2 separate regions of the Homo sapiens genome follow, and region 1 is linked to region 2. A link means that fine-mapping ties the variant in region 2 to the expression of a gene that starts in the linked region. Tissue or cell type: whole blood. Region 2 holds a variant in brackets; the other region holds the start of a gene. All regions are shown on one strand. Distances are from middle to middle.

What was found. PIP is the estimated chance that this variant, and not a neighbour inherited with it, causes the effect.
Region 1: EMP3 starts here. The variant in region 2 is fine-mapped to the expression of EMP3 in whole blood (TOPMed, PIP 0.94).

Annotation. Positions count from the first base shown.
Region 1 is chr19:48,322,114-48,330,290 of GRCh38, forward strand. It overlaps EMP3 (epithelial membrane protein 3 (MAM blood group)), which reads left to right and starts at 3,439. Exons shown (of 5, transcript NM_001425.3): 1 at 3,439-3,497; 2 at 4,717-4,809; 3 at 5,408-5,510; 4 at 7,239-7,379. The coding sequence starts at 4,732. It overlaps LOC124904735 (a long non-coding RNA gene), which reads left to right. Exons shown (of 2, transcript XR_007067284.1): 2 at 677-1,409. RefSeq lists enhancers at 233-292, 303-362, 3,263-3,312, 3,913-3,962, 4,253-4,322 and 2 more and silencers at 1-122, 2,454-2,685.
Region 2 is chr19:48,299,850-48,308,026 of GRCh38, forward strand. ODAD1 (outer dynein arm docking complex subunit 1) reads right to left here. Exons shown (of 16, transcript NM_001364171.2): 8 at 6,407-6,474; 9 at 4,104-4,291; 10 at 3,801-3,935; 11 at 3,164-3,246; 12 at 2,845-3,013. Among named protein-coding and RNA genes, the nearest start is that of ODAD1, 18 kb to the right of the region's middle. RefSeq lists enhancers at 3,475-3,999, 4,000-4,523. The variant G/A (reference allele first, on the strand shown) is at 4,811.

The DNA.
Region 1 (8,177 bases), 22 kb after region 2:
GTGGGCGCCTCTCCCTGCAGGCTGGGTGTGCCCGAAGCCTGCGGTTTCCTGTGGGAGGAAGCGGCCTGCGTACGCTCAGCTCAGCTCATAATCTCGGAGGCCCAGGATGGGGAGATCCCGCCGCCACCCTCAGATCCTTTGATTCTTCCCCTTCTACATAGCCATAGTGCGGGGACCCCCCTAATATCCCCAGGGTACCCAAGCCTGGCGCCGATCCCACTCAGGGAACTTGATTCTGAGTCCTAGACTCGTGTTTTTCACCTCCCCGGCTCAAGTTTCCATCTTCCTAGCCCCTGGCTCCCCCTAGTCCTCTCAAGAAAGTGGAGCCCTCTTTTCCTGCTCCCCAAGAGGAACGTATGTCTCCCCAGCCCCTAATTTTTCCTTCAGTGACCCAGACTTTGCAACTTCCTTAGGGATCTGAGTGCGGACCCCAGTTTCTGTCTCTCAGGCACTTAAGTTTGAGACTACTTATTCTCCCCCAGGGACCCTCATTTTGGATTCCCAACTTTAGCCTTGAGACCCAATGGACCCAAGAATTTGCCCCTTCCCCAACTCCTAGAGATCCTGAATCAGGGTCCCCCAGTACTGACTCCACTCAGAGCCCCAATGCCTGATATGACTAGCACTACCCTAAGAACTGCCCTATAATGTATTTACTATTATCTCTATTTTTCAGATGAAGAGACTGAGGCATAGAGAAGTTATTAGTAACTTGCCAAAAATTACACAGCCATTGAGTAAAACAGCTTGGATTTTGAGTCCAACCAGTGTGGCTCTAGAGTCTGTGCTATACTGGTATTCCAGCTTCCAGGTCTTGGGGTACCCAGCCAAGCACTGAACTGTCCATCCCTCACCCCCTCAGGGAGCCCGAATCACCAACAGCTATCCCAAACCCAGCTCTGGCCCATCAGATACCCAGACATCCCATCATCCAGTTCCCTTCCCTGGATCCAGGATTTGAATTCCCCTGCTCTCAATTTATCAGAGTTCTGGGCACCTGGTCCCCTCCCAAGAGACTCGTGTACATAGTAGTCATCACCCCGACCCTAATTTAATATCCCCAAAATTAATAATAATAGTTAACAGTAAACCTTTGGGGCCAGGCACAGTGTCTTACGCCTGTAATCCCATCATTTTGGGAGGCCAAGGCAGGCAGATCACTGGAGGTCAGGAGTTCGAGGCCAGCCTGGCCAACATGGAGAAACCCCCGTCTCTACTAAAAATACAAAAATTGGCTGGGCGTGGTGGCGGGCACCTGTAATCCCAGCTACTCAGGAGGCTGAGGCAGGAGAATCGCTTGAACCGGGAGGTGGAGGTTGCAGTGAGCTGAGATCATGCCACTGCACTCCAGCCTGGATGACAGAGCAAGACTCCATCTCAAAAAAAAAATAAAAATCTTTGGTACTACACTCTGTTAAAACCTAATGGCTTTCCACTGCACTTAGAATGAAATCCAAGCCCCTCCCCTAGTCTTCAAGGGCACCCTTTGATTTCCCTTCTCACCACTCCCTCTGTCTCCCTGTGCTCCAGCCACACTGGCCCTTCTGTCTGCTCCCTAAACAACCTGAGCTTGTTCTCAAAAGCTTTAAGAGCTTTTGCACTTCCTCTCCCCCCGACGCCCCCCCACCACTCCCCAACCCCAGCGTTCAAATGACTCCTGTCTTCAGCTCAAATGTTACCTCCTCCAAGAGGCCTTCCCTGATTTTCCTGTTTCAAGTAGTCTTCCCTGCACTCTGTCATTATCTCCATCACTCTGTTTGATTTATTATTGTATTTATTTTTCTTTTCTTCTTTTATTTTTTTTTTTCTTTAAGATGGAGTCTTGCTCTGTCACCCAGGATGGAGTGCAGTAGCGTGATTTCAGCTTACTGCAACCTCCGCCTCCCGGGTTCAAGCAATTCTCCTGTCTCAGCCTCCTGAGTAGCTGGGTTACAGGCGCCCACTACCATGCCTGGCTAATTTTTGTATTTTTAGTAGAGACAGGGTTTCACCATGTTGGCCAGGCTGGTCTTGAACTCTCGACCTCAGGTGATCCTCCAGCCTTGGCCTCCCAAAGTGCTGAGATTACAGGCATGAGCCACCACGTCCAGCCTATTGTATTTATTTTTCAAGTCACTTATCCTTATCTGAGATTTATCTTCATCATTGATGTTTTCTCTTGTCTGTCTTCCTCTACTAGAATACAAGCTCCATAATACCAGCAGGGCTCATGTCTGTTTTCATTATTAACTCCCAGATCAGAGTACATGTTCAATAAATGTTTGATGAAGGAAGGAACAGGTTAGGTGTGTGAGTGTGCCAGTATTACCTTATTCATTCAGCATAAGTATCAGAATTATTATTATCAGTATTAGTATTTTGTCAGCATTATTATACTCTCAACATAGACTAAGATACTGGAGCCCAGGTGGGTGAAATAATTGGCTCAAGGTCACTGAACCAGGAAATGATGGCGCTGGGATTCTTAGCTTCCGCTTCCTCCCCGCTTCCAGAGTTTCACAAGGTTTTTTTTTTTGTTTGTTTGTTTTTTGTTTTGTTTTGTTTTTTTTTTGCGACAGAATCTCACTTTGTCCCCCAGGTTGGAAGGCAGTGGTGCAAACTCAACTCACTGCAGCCTCCACCTCTCGCGTTCAAGCGATTCTCATGGCTCAGCCTCCCAAGTAGCTGGGATTACAGTCGCCCGCCACCACGCCCGGCTAATTTTTGTATTTTTGATAGAGACGGGTTTCCACCATGTTGGCCAGGCTGGTCTCGAACTCCTGACCTCAGATGATCTGCCCGTCTCGGCCTCCCAAAGTGCTGGGATTACAGGCGTGAGCCACAACGCCCTGCCGAGTTTCACAAATTTCATCTCCCATCCTCTGACCCCCCACCACGGGGCCAACTTCACCAGCCCAATCTCAAGTCCATGCCACAGAAATCTGGCCTCTTTTCCCAGACTCCTATCCAGCTCCAAGCTCCATCAGGGAAAGCAGACATCCGGCCCCAGGGCAAGACCTCAAAACTCAAGGGTCCTGAGAATCGGGCCCTCCCACCCCTGACGCTTGCCCCCCCCAAGAACCCCATTCCAAGAGTTTCTCATCTCAACCCTGGGAGGGAGCCCCAGATGATGTCTGTCTGGAGGGATTGGGTGGGGGCCCAAAGAAAGAGGAACCGGAGTGCCTGGGCCCTCCCACTGGCAGCCGACCTCAGCTGGGTGCGGTGAGGGTGGGTTTATAAAAGGGTCAGTATATATTGAGAGGAGGAGAGAAAGAGAAACGGGAGCAAGAGAGAAGGAGGCCCAGACAGTGAGGGCAGGAGGGAGAGAAGAGACGCAGAAGGAGAGCGAGCGAGAGAGAAAGGGTTCTGGATTGGAGGGGAGAGCAAGGGAGGGAGGAAGGCGGTGAGAGAGGCGGGGGCCTCGGGAGGGTGAAAGGAGGGAGGAGAAGGGCGGGGCACGGAGGCCCGAGCGAGGGACAAGACTCCGACTCCAGCTCTGACTTTTTTCGCGGCTCTCGGTAAGTTTCCAGTCCGTTATTCAGGGCTGGGACTTCTTAATTTACTTGGGAATGTAGCAGTTTGGGAAGGACACCCCCAGGCTGGGAGAGACGTCCCTGACTCTTGGAAATCCTTTTAATTTAATAAGTGATCTCTTAGCACTTGAGGTGGGGATATGGGAAGGGGTGGGGCCCGGCAAAGTTTTGGGGTCCCAGCAGAGCCCTCCACTGGAAAACTTCCTGCAGTTTTTCCCTCAGCGGTGTCCACTGTCCTCTGGGGTCCCTGAGATCAGGGCATTGCATGAGAACACCCCAAATCTGGGAGACCTCTAGGTCCCCTGTTCCTGGGCACCAAAGAGTCCTGGGAGGCTAACTCCTTCTTGGGCCTCTCTTCCCCCCAGCGCGAATCCTATCCATTTCCTCCAGAAGATGTCCAACAGTCACCAGTCTGGCAGCAGGGTGGGGTGAGGACCTCGTGGACATAGCCAGGGGCTGGGGTTTCCCTGGTGCTTAGAGATGGGGGGGGGTGGGGATGAGTCACCAGATGACTCACCAGGTCCCCCTCCTCCCCTCAACCCAGGAGAGGAGTGGTGTGAGTCAAGAATGCCTGTTGCTGGGGGCAGCTCCTCAATCCTGATGTCGGGGTGCAGGGTGGGGTCTCAACTTGAATTTTCACTATCTGGCCTGTATGTAACCCAGAGTCAGGGTTCTGGGGAGAGAGGAGCCACATTGCTAGTCCTCCTCATTCAAGGAACCCAAGAGTCCATCTTTGGCCCTCTCCACCCCTCCAGCCAATGGGGATCTCAGGAATCCAGGCCCCAGCGGTCTCCTCCCTGAGAGACCCAGGAGTCTGCACCCATGCCCTTCCTCCATCAGGAGACATCTCACCTGCCTTTATGCCAAATTTTTTTTTTTTTTTGAGACGGAGTCTTTCTCTGTCACCCAGGCTGGAGTGCAATGGCATGATCTTGGCTCATTGCAACCTTTGCCTCCTGGATTCCAGTGATTCTCCTGCCTCAGCCTCCCGAGTAGCTGGGATTACAGGTGTGCACCACCACACCCAGCTAATTTTGTATTTTTAGTAGAGATGGGGTTTCACCATGTTGGCCAGGCTGGTCTCGATCTCCTGACCTCAGGTGATCCTCCCGCCTCGGCCTCCCAAAGTGCTGGGGTTATAGGCGTGAGTGTGCCTGGCCTGTGCCAACCTCTTGAGACTCCGTCCCCTGCTCCCCCTCCCCAGGCTTCCACTGCAGCCATGTCACTCCTCTTGCTGGTGGTCTCAGCCCTTCACATCCTCATTCTTATACTGCTTTTCGTGGCCACTTTGGACAAGGTAAGCCTACTTGGAGCTCAGGGCCCTTCTGTTCCCCTTTGGAATCTTGCCACGCCCCTCCTCTAAAGGCATTCTGGCCCCACCCCCTTTACCTAGTATTTCTTTTTTATTTTATTTCATTTATTTTGAGACAAGGGTCTCACTCTGTCCCCCAGGCTGGAGTGCAGTGGTGCGATCTCGGCTCACTGCAACCTCGGCCTCCCGGGTTCAAGCGATTCTCCTGTCTCAGCCCCCCAAGTAGCTGGGATTAGAGGCACCTGCCACCAAGCCCGGCTAATTTTTTTATTTTGGTAGAGACGGGGTTTCACCATGTTGCCCAGGCTGGTCTCGAACCCCTGGCCTCAAGTGATCCACCTGCCTCGGCCTCCCACAGTGCTGGGATTACAGGCATGAACCACCAGGTTAACCCTTTTAGCTCTACCTCCGATGCCTCCTCCCTGTCCTGACCCTACCCCCTCTCATATTAAATCCTAACTCTCCCCAGTTCTGCCCCATCCCAGATACCCTGCCCTTTTCCCAGCCCTTCCCACAGTCTGCCTGACCCTATCCCCTCTCCTTTCCTAACCCTGCCCCTTGTTTCGTTCTCTGTCCATCCCAGTCCTGGTGGACTCTCCCTGGGAAAGAGTCCCTGAATCTCTGGTACGACTGCACGTGGAACAACGACACCAAAACATGGGCCTGCAGTAATGTCAGCGAGAATGGTGAGGGGTGAGGGCGGCGGGACTGGTCTTCAAAGGGGAAGGTAAACCCTTCGTGTCCTCATGGGACTGAGAATTGGGAACCCTCCCCCAACAAAGTTGGAGTGGGCGGGGTCCAGGCCTGAGTGGCTGAGTGCCTAGGGCTAATGCATGTCCCGCCTGTCTGGATGTACCTACCTCTTGTTTTTTTTGTTTTTGTTTTTTGAGACCGAGTTTTCCTCTGGTTGCCCAGGCTGGAGTGCAGTGGCGCAATCTTGGCTCACTGCAACCTCTCCCTCCGGGGTCCGAGCAATTCTCCTGCCTCAGCCTCCCGAGTAGCTGGGACTGCAGGTGTGTGCCACCACGCCTGGCTAATTTTGCATTTTTAGTAGAGACAGGTTTCACCATGTTGGCCAGGCTGGTCTTGAACTTCTGACTTCAGCTAATCCACCTGCTTCAGCCTCCCAAAGTGCTGAGATTACAGGCGTGAGCCACCACATCCAGCCAGTACCTCCTGTTCTGAAGAGGCCATATAGATAAAAGCATGCTATAGGTTTAAAGAATAGAGAGGGGAGGCCAAGGCGGGTAGATCACGAGGCCAGGAGTTCGAGACCAGCCTGGCCAAGATGATGAAACCCCGTCTCTACTAAAAATACAAAAAAATTAGCCGGGCATGGTGGCGTGCGCCTGTAGTCCCAGCTACTTGGGAGGCTGAGGCAGAAGAATCGCTTGAACCCAGGAGGTGGAGGTTGCAGTGAGCTGAGATTGCACTACTGCACTCCAGCCTGGGCAACAGAGCAAGATTCTGTCTCAAAAAAAAAAAAAAAAAAAAAGAATAGAGAAAAATCTCCCAAGATTCTGAGAAGACAAGAGTATTTTTCCAAAGCTCTAAGGAGATGGGGCTGGTGCTCTGAATGGATGCCTGGGACCATTTCATCCAAATTCCAAGGGGATGGGGCTGAAACCACTTAAGGTTCTAAAGGGGTGGGGCCAGGTGCATTGGAGTTCTAAAGGAATAGAGCTGCATCTATCTAAAGTTCTGTGTGAAAGATTTAATGCAAAACTAAGATTAAAGGAAGTGGTCTGCTCTCACCACTTCTATTCAACCTTTTACTGGAGTAGCCAATGCAAGAAGGCAAGAAAAAGAAATAAAGGGCATGGGAAATAAATTAGGAAAAAGTGTCTCTATTCCCAGTAAACATGTTGTTTATGTAGAAAATCCATTAAAATTCTGCAAAGCAGACAGACACAGTGGCTCACACCTGTAATCCCAGCACCTTGGGAGGCTGAGGAGGAAGGATCACTTAAGCCCAGGAGTTCAAGACCAGCCTGGACAACATAGGGAAACCCTGTCTCTACAAAAATTTAAAAATTACCCAGGTTGTGGTGGCTTGTGCCTGTGGTCCCAGCTACTCAGGAGGCAGGGGTGAGAGAATTTCTTGAGCCCTGAAGGACGAGGCTGCAGTGAGCCATGATTATACCACTGCACTCCAGCTTGGGCAACAGAGCAAGACCTGGTTTCAGAAAAAAAAGAAAAAGGAAATTGGCAAAGCAACTACTAGAACTGAGAAGGGAATATAGCAAGGTAACAGGGCTCAAGGTCAAAATAAGTGATACATCTAAGTATCTAGGCTTGTATGGGCCTAAACGGGAGCAGGGATGGGGCAGAGAAGGGTCACATGGTGAGCAAGCAGGTGAAGCTGGAACTCTGGACCCACGGTGATGTCCCCCTCTGTGTCCTCCTTACTGCAGGCTGGCTGAAGGCGGTGCAGGTCCTCATGGTGCTCTCCCTCATTCTCTGCTGTCTCTCCTTCATCCTGTTCATGTTCCAGCTCTACACCATGCGACGAGGAGGTCTCTTCTATGCCACCGGCCTCTGCCAGCTTTGCACCAGTGAGCACTGCCCCTCCCCAACCCTAATCCCCCAAGAATTGAGCAGAAGGGAGTGGGGTGTGTCAAGATGCTGGGGGCCCTGAGAATGGGCCTCTCGTAGAAAAAAACAACTTTCAACACCCCACGAGCCACAAGAGGTGCCTCCGTGGGCTACATCTCTGCCCCCAGGGATTGCTGGGACTTGTAGTTTTCAGTGGCTAATGATAGTTATGGCTTGTGCGTATGAGTCATCAGGGAACTCAGAGTTTCAGGGAGCCGGGGCTGGGGAAGGAGGTATAGGTAAATAGTTTTGGTCCCAGGGATCGGCCGTGACGTGGGGGGATAAACTAATTAGTACCTCAGTAGAGAGCTCTAAATCATAATAATAATGGTATTTATATCAGCCAACCGCTGTTTCTTGCGTGCCTATTGTGCATCAGATACTTCAAGAAGTTTTGCGTACTTTTTAATTTTTTGACTTAAGGTGCAAAGGGCTAACTTAATCACAGTCAGTTTGGGGAACATTATAGGTTCTTGCAAAGCTTCTCTCTTGGTTTATGAATTTACTACTGCATGTTTGGCTTATAGAAACACACTCAAAAATATTCCTTGGATGGATAGAGAGATATTATTGGACCTAGAGAGATTAAATCAGTTACCTAAGGCCGCGCTACAGTTGCACGGCGCTGGGCGGGGGGGAAAGAACCACAACTCCCAGCAGGCAGCGGCGCTGCCCACGGGCCCTCCGGCGCTTCTTTGCCCCCATGGGATATTGGGAAATGTAGTCTTGAGGGGGCACTGCATGACGTGTGGTTTTCA
Region 2 (8,177 bases):
GCAACATACCCACAGAAGGGATTAAAAAAAAAAAAAAGAAACTCAGCCAGGAGTGGTGGCTCATGCCTATAATCCCAGCACTTTGGGAGTCCAAGACAGGAGGATCACTTGAGTCCAGGAGTTCAAGACTAGCCTGGACAACATAGTAAAATCCTATCTCTAAAAAAAAAAAGGGCCGGGCACAGTGGCTCATGCATATGTAATCCCAGCACTTTGGGATACTGAGGCGGGCAGATCACCTGAGGTCAGGAGTTTGAGACCAGCCTGCCAACATGGCGAAACCCCGTCTCTACTAAAAATACCAAAATTAGTTGGGCGTGGTGGCGGGCACCTGTAATCCCAGCAACTCAGGAGGCTGAGGCAGAACTGCTTGAACCTGGGTGGCAGAGGTTGCAGTGAGCCGAGATTGTGCCACTGCACTCCAGCCTGGGCAAAAGAGCGAAATTCCTCTCAAAAAATAAATAAATGAAAAAAATCTAAAAAAATTTTTAAAAAGGAAACTCTAGACCCCTACCTCATACCATAATGCAAATCAATTTGTCATAAGTCACAGACTTCAATGTGGGAGTTCAAACAATGAAACTTCTAGGAGAAAACACAGCATAATGCCTTTGTAACCTCAGGACAGGCAAAAATTTCTTAGGCAGGCCACAAAGTCATTAACTACAAAAAGAAAATTTCATAAATTAGATATCCTCAAAACTAAGAAACTTCAGTTCATCACCAAAAAAAATGAAAAGGCAAGCTACAGTATAAGAGAAAATATTTACCAAAAGTCTAGTATCTAGAATATACAAAGAACTCCTTCAACTCAGTTATAGCAAGACAAACCCAATTTTTAAAAAAACAAGTGCACAAGATTGAACAGGAACTTTACAAAAACATCTGAATGGCCAATACGATGCTCAATATTATTAGTCACCAGGGAAATGCCAATTAAATTAATAGAGAGAGTACGGCACACACGTTAGATGGCTAATATTAAAATGGCTGACGGCCAGGCACGGGGGCTCACGCCTGTAATCCCAGCACTTTGGGAGGCCGAGGCGGGCAGATCACGAGGTCAAGAGATCGAGACCATCCTAGCCAACGTGATGAAACCCCGACTCTACTAAAAATACAAAAATTAGCTGGGCGTGGTGGCGCACACCTGTAGTCCCAGCTACTGGAGAGGCTGAGGCAGGAGAATCGCTTGAACCCAGGAAGCGGAGGTTGCAGTGAGCCGAGATCATGCCATTGCACTCCAGCCTGGTGACAGAGCAAGACTGCATCTCAAAAACAAAACAAGATAAAAAATGGCTGACACTAGGAAGTGGTGGAAAAGGTGTGGATCATCGGGGACTCCCATATGCTCGCATAGGTGAGAGCATAAAATCTTGCGACCAGTGTGGAAAACTGTTCGGCATTTTCTAATAAATATCAACATATACCTACCCTAAGACCCATCGGTCCCACTGCTAGGCATTTATAGACAGAGATGTACATGGATGATCCATGGATGAATACTGGGTAGATGGATGGATGGGTGGATGATGGATATGGGACAGTTGGAGGGACAGCATCTGTTTTTTAGTGTTTTGTGAAACAAGTGGAATAATGCATAAGTGCCTTGCACAGTGAATGACACATAATAAACATTGCTATTATATTTTATCATCATTTTCTTTACAAATAATAACATTTTTGGTAACTAAGACTAAGAAGAAATTTGGTAACTAAGACTAAGAAGAAATTTGGTAACTAAGACTAAGACTAGGAAGACAAAAGTCAAATGTCATTGCAGATAGATGGATGAACAGATGGATGTGGGGCTGTTGGAGGCAGATGGACAGATAGACAATGGATGGATTGATGGACATGGGACAGATGGAGGGATAGACCCTGGATGGATGGATGGACATGGGACAGTTGGAGGGATAGACCCTGCATGGATGGATGGACATGGGACAGTTGGAGGAATAGATCCTGGATGGATGGATGGATGGATGGATGGATGGATGGATGGATGGATGGATATACGGACAGATGGATATAGGACAGATGAAGGGGTAGATCCTGGATGGATAGATATGGGACAGATGAAGGAATAGACCCTGGATAGATAGATGGATATGGGACAGATGGAGGTATAGAACCTGGATGGAGAGATAGATATAGGACAGATGAAGGAATAGATCCTGGATGAATGATGGATACAGGACAGTTGGAGGAATAGACCCTGGATGGATGGATGGATGGGTGGATGAATGGATGGATGGATGGATGAATGGATGGATGGATATAGGACAGATGGAGGGGTAGGTCCTGGATGGGTAGATAGATATAGAACAGATGAAGGAACAGACCCTGGATAGATAGATGGATATGGGACAGAATGGAGGGATAGACCCTGGATGGAGAGATAGATATAGGACAGATGAAGGAATAGATCCTGAATGGATGATGGATATAGGACAGTTGAAGGGATAGACTCTGAATGGATGGATGGATATAGGATAATTGGAGAGACAGACGTTGAATGGATGGATGGATGGATGGATGGATGGATGGATGGATGGATGGATATGGGACAGTTGGAGGGATCAACCCTAGATGGATGGATGGATGCATTGATAGATGGATGGATGGATGGGTGTAGGACAGTTGGAGGGACAGATGATGGATGGATAGATGGACATGGGACAGTTGGAGGGATAGACCCTGGTTGGAAAGATGGACAGATATGGGGCAACTGATAAGCAAGTGAACCAGGTTGTCCATGCAATGCCTCCAAGCCCCGCGGGCTGATGGTGTCCTTCCAAGTGGAGAAGCCAGGCTCGGGAGGGGGCGCCCATGGGTGCTCACCAGCCTTGAGCTTCTCCAGCTGTCCCCGCACATCCTGGAAGCGGGCCTCAAGGCGCTCAGCCTCCGAGTGCACCTTGTCCATGCGCTGCTGCAACACCTTCTGCTGCTGCTCCTGCAGCAAATGCTGGTCATCCTTGCTGGCACGTGCGCTCACCAAAGCCTCCTGCATCTGTGGGGACAGGGCTGAATGCTGGGCCAGATGGCAGCCTCGGGAGTTGGGGGTGTGGAGCTAGGAAGAAGCAGGAGGCAGGCTGAGGGAGGGAAGGGGGCGGGGAGGCCGGGAGGAGAGGAGGAGATGGAGAGGGCAGGCCTCACTCACCTCCTTGATCTCTTCCTGCACATGCTCCAGCTCCAAGTTCTGCTCGTTGATGAAGTTGAACTCAGCAAAGTTGCGCTCCTCGACTGGGAGAGTTGGGCAAGGCGGGGCCCAGAGAGAGGGAGACAGAGAAACAGAGACAGAGAGAACAGAGACAGAGAGGCATACAGAAGGCCAAAGAAAGTGAAGATGAGGAAGGCCACACAGAAACCAAGGCAGAGAGACGAACAGAGAGGAGTCACAGAGACAAAGAGGTGTGGGAAGATACGGCAGGTGGGACACAGAAATACACAGCAAGGCAGAGAGGGAAAGCCAGAGACTCGGCAATAGCAAGGGAGATGGGGAGATGCAGGCGGGGAGAACGGTAGATATGGGTAAGGAGAGAAACAGAGAGGGACAGGGTTGAGGGAAGGATGTGGAGAGTGACCCCAGGCCCAGGAGTTAGGAGGGGGTGGGGAGGGGCAGAGACAGGGCCACGGTAAGACGCCAGTGGACGCGGGCGGCGGGTCCCAGGCATGACGCCTTGTTCCTCCAGCACAGATGGAGGAGTTCCCCAGGGCCAGAGCTGAGGCCAGCCTGCACTGGACTCAGGGGGTGCCGGGGTCCCGGGCCTCCTCCCTCCACCCAGGGCCCCACTCACTCTCCAGATACTTCTGCACCAACAGGTCAGGGTCACTCTCCCCCATCAGCTGGGACAGTTTATTCAGGGCGTCCTCGTAGCAAAGCACCAGCCTCTCCTGGGAGGTCTTCCAGACGCCCTCGGCCACCTCCCCGGCTAGGGGAAGAGAGAACAGCAGGTCGGCCTCCTGGGTGGCCTCCAACACAGAGACCTCCTGGGTGAGGGGGAGCGAAGTGTGGTCCCACCTGGGGCACGAAGGTGTGCTGCAGGTGCCCCAGGGGCGGCCAGGCCCTTGAGATGCAAAGGCAGCAGCCCCAGCCTCACCCTGCTTTTCACGCTTCTCCAGGACATCGGGATCCGGCTGCCGGTCGTTGTTCTTGAGCTTGAGGAAGTGGTGCAGCTGCTCCAGGTGCAAGATCTGCCGCTGCAGGACCTGCGCCTCCATCTCGCTCTGGGCCTCCTCTTTCTCCGCGCGCTCCCGCAGCAAGCCCATCTTGGCCTTCGCCTCCTCCCTGCGGGGGTCAGCCGGGGTCAGGATGACTGGAGGCTGGACTGGGGTCGGCCTGGGGTCCTGGGGATGGGCGGGGTCAGCCAGAGGTTGTGGGGGGTGAGGTGGAGTCAGCTGGTGTCCCAGATGGGCAGGGCCAGCCTGGGGTCACAGGAATGGGGCTGAATCAGGTTGCAGTTATCCTGTGGTCACAAAAAGCAGAGAACTGGCTGGGCACGGTGGCTCAGGCTGTAATCCCAGCACTTTGGGAGGCAGGAGGATCACCTGCAGTCAGGAGTTTGAAACCAGCCTGGCCAACATGGTGAAACTCCATCTCTACTAAAAATACAAAAATTAGCCAGACCTGGTGGTGCATGCCTGTAATCCCAACTACTTGGGAGGCTGAGGCAAGAGAATCGCTTGAACCTGGGAGGTGAAGATTGCAGTGAGCTGAGATCGCACCACTGCACTCCAGCCTGGGTGGCAAGAGCGAAACTGTCTCAAAAAAAAAAAAAAGACAGAAGCAAGAACTTCAAAAGAGTGC[G/A]ACATCATATTAGAAACACAACACAAAACTCTCGGTGTGCTGCTGGCTCACGTTCTTTCAGCAGCCTGCTCTCCTCATCCTTCAGAGTGTACTGTCTCTCTCTAGGTAAACTCTCTGTTCTCTATTTGCCTTCAGTAAATTCTCTTTGTTGGCTAAATCAGTCTCTTGGCAGAATTCTTTCTCCCAAGTAAGACTAAAAAGCGAGGATTCCTGTACTTCCCGGTGGCAGGTAGTTTTCCTTTTGGAGTGATGGAAATATTTCAGATCTAGACAGAAGTGGTGCGGTTGCACGGCCCCGTGAATGTACTAAATGCTGCTACATTCTACGCTTTAAAATGGTGAATTTTGCCACGTTTGTTTTAACAGAGAGAGAGAAAGAGAGAAATCACAGAGACCCTAAGGCCGACCCAGGCCACAGCTGATGTCGATCAGGGACCATGAGAAAACAGAAGCCAGAGAAGAACTTAGTAGAAGGTAAGAAAGCATTTGGAGCAAAAGAAGAGGGCGAAGCTGAGAAAGAGACAGGGATGGAGTGAGAGAGAGAGCATGGAGCTCATGAGAGCCCCAGAGAGGGAGAGAGAAGCCAACACCTAAAGCAGCTTCAGCTCCTCAACTCCTTACAGTGTGCCTCTATCTGAAGGTGGCCCGAGAGGATCTCTGTCCCTTGCAACCAATGCTGACGAATAACAAATTCGCCAGATGCTTCCAGGAACCCTGCTGCACTATATATGTGCTAGATGCGCTTTTTTTTTTTTTTTCTCCTGAGACGGAGTCTCACTCTGTTGCCCAGGCTGGAATGCAGTGGTGCAATCTCGGCTCACTGCAACCTCCGCCCCCAGGGCTCAAGCAATCCTCCCACCTCAGCCTCCCAAGTAGCTGGGACCACAGACACCCGCCACCATGCCCAGCTAAGTTTTTATATTTTTGGTAGAGATGGGATTTCACCATGTTGGCCAGGCTGGTCTCGAACTCCTGAGCTCAAGCAATCTGCCTGCCTTGGCCTCCCAAAGTGTTGGGATTACAGGCGTGAGCCACCTCGCCCAGCCAGTAGATACATTCTTATGTGCTAGATGGGGTCAGTAGAGGTTAATTTACATGCCCAAGAAAAAGAACAGGGCCGGTGGGGTGCAATGGCTCATGCCTGTAATCCCAGCACTTTGGGAGGCAGAGGCGGGTAGATCATGAGCTCAGGAGTTCAAGACCAGCCTGGTCAAGATGGTGAAACCCCATCTCTACTAAAAATACAAAAATTAGCCAGCCACGGTGCCGGGCACCTGTAATCCCAGCTACTCGGGAGGCTGAGGCAGGAGAATTGTTTGAACCTGGGAGGTAGAGGTTGCAGTGAGCCAAGATAGCGCAACTGCACTGTAGCCTGGGCGACAGAGCCAGACTCTGTCTCAAAAAAAAAGACAGAACAGGACCTTGCCAGTGGAGGTGGGGAACTGGTGGCGGGGAGAGAGAAAAAGGGGATATTATGGGAGAAAAAATAGGTTCTGACGTGTTTCATGAGTCCTGAACCTTCCCATCACTGCCTTATGGAAAGGTGCGTCCTGAGTCATCTGGGTCCCGCCATCCCAGGATACCCGCAGTCTCTACCTGACGGCGTAGGCAGAGGTGGAGGAGAGGATAAGGGTGCTGACCAGGTGATGCAGGTGGTGGATCTCCTGTGGGGGGAGGAGAAAAAAATCAGTGCCACTTCTTACAACCCCATTGCTCGAAGTCTTTCCTTTTGGCCCCGTGCTTCTCCAATAAGGAGTAAAGCTCTTGAGCCTTCCAAATGTGGACCCTCCTCATTAGCGACTGCCCATGAAAGGGATTTTAAAGAGGTGTGAAGTCAAATTGATAAGCTGGATCAAAAGGCTCTTTCTGTAGATAAGCAGAAACTAAGAAAATATTTAGTAACCTACGGGGACTGGGTGGAAATGAGGTGGAGGAGATGGAGAGGAAATGACGTTTCCCTAGGAGACCTTTTGGAATAGTTTGATTTGAGAACCTTGTTAATGTTTTACATATTCATAAAGGAAATTAAATCAATAAAGAGAGGAGAGAAAACTAAAACTGAATGCAAATGGAAGCAAGTGAACTTTATTTAAAAATAATAATAGGGCCAGGTGCGGTGGCTCAGGCCCATAATCCCAGCAGTTTGGGAGGACGAGGCGGGCAGATCACCTGAGCTTGGGAGTTCGAGACCAGCCTGGCCAACATAGAGAAACTCCATCTCTATTAAAAATACAAAATTAGGGCCAGGCGCGGTGGCTCACGACTGTAATCCCAGCACTTTGGGAGGCCAAGACGGGAGGATCACCTGAGGTCGGGAGTTTGAGACCAGCCTGACCAACATGGAGAAACCCTGTCTCTACTAAAAATACAAAAAATTAACCAGGCGTGGTGGTGCATGCCTGTAATCCCAGCTACTTGGGACAATGAGGCAGAAGAATAGCTTGAATCCGGGAGGCGGAGGTTGTGGTGAGCCGAGATCGTGCCATTGCACCCTAGCCTGGGCAACAAGAGTGAGACTCCATCTCAAAAGAAAAAAAAAAAGAAAGAAAGAAAGAAAGAAAGATGAAATGAGGAATGCTCAGGAAAAAGCTGGTGATATTGGAATGGAATCAGAGGTATCAATGTGAACTCACTATTGTAAAATATGTCAGCCAGGCGCAGTGGCTCATGCCTGTAATCCCAATACTTTGTGAGGCCAAGGCAGGAGAATCACCTGAGCCCAAGAGTTTGAGAGCAGCCTGGACAACATAGTAAGACCCCATCTCTACAAAACATAAATAGAATTTTAAAACATATAAAATATGTGTGCTTCCTAGCTCTCTCCAGAGGAAGGGCCTCAAAGCAATGACACCCAAGTAGCAACAGAGTCTCTTAGTGCCAGGCTGGTGGTTCACGCCTGTAATCCCAGCACTGTGGGAGGCCGAGGTGGGCGGATCACGAGGTCAGGAGATCGAGACCATCCTGGCTAACACGGCAAAACCCCGTCTCTACTAAAAATACAAAAAATTAGCCGGGCGTGGTGGCAGGTGCCTGTAGTCCCAGCTACTCGGGAGGCTGAGGCAGGAGAACGGCGTGAACCTGGGAGGCGGAGCTTGCAGTGAGCCGAGATCATGCCACTGCACTCCAGCACTTTAGCCTGGGTGACAAAGCGAGACTCCGTCTCAAAAAAAAAAAAAAAAAGAAAACGGTCTCTTAGTGCCTCAACACCTACTCTTCCCTAGAAAGAACCGGGACTCCTCAGAAAAATGGCCAACCCCAGGGATGGGGCAGAACAAGGTCCAGATTACCCAGACTATCTTCGTGTGCCAGAAAGTGAGGAAGTACTCCCAAAAAGTGATGGGGTATGTCCAAAGGCCACAGAAGCCAG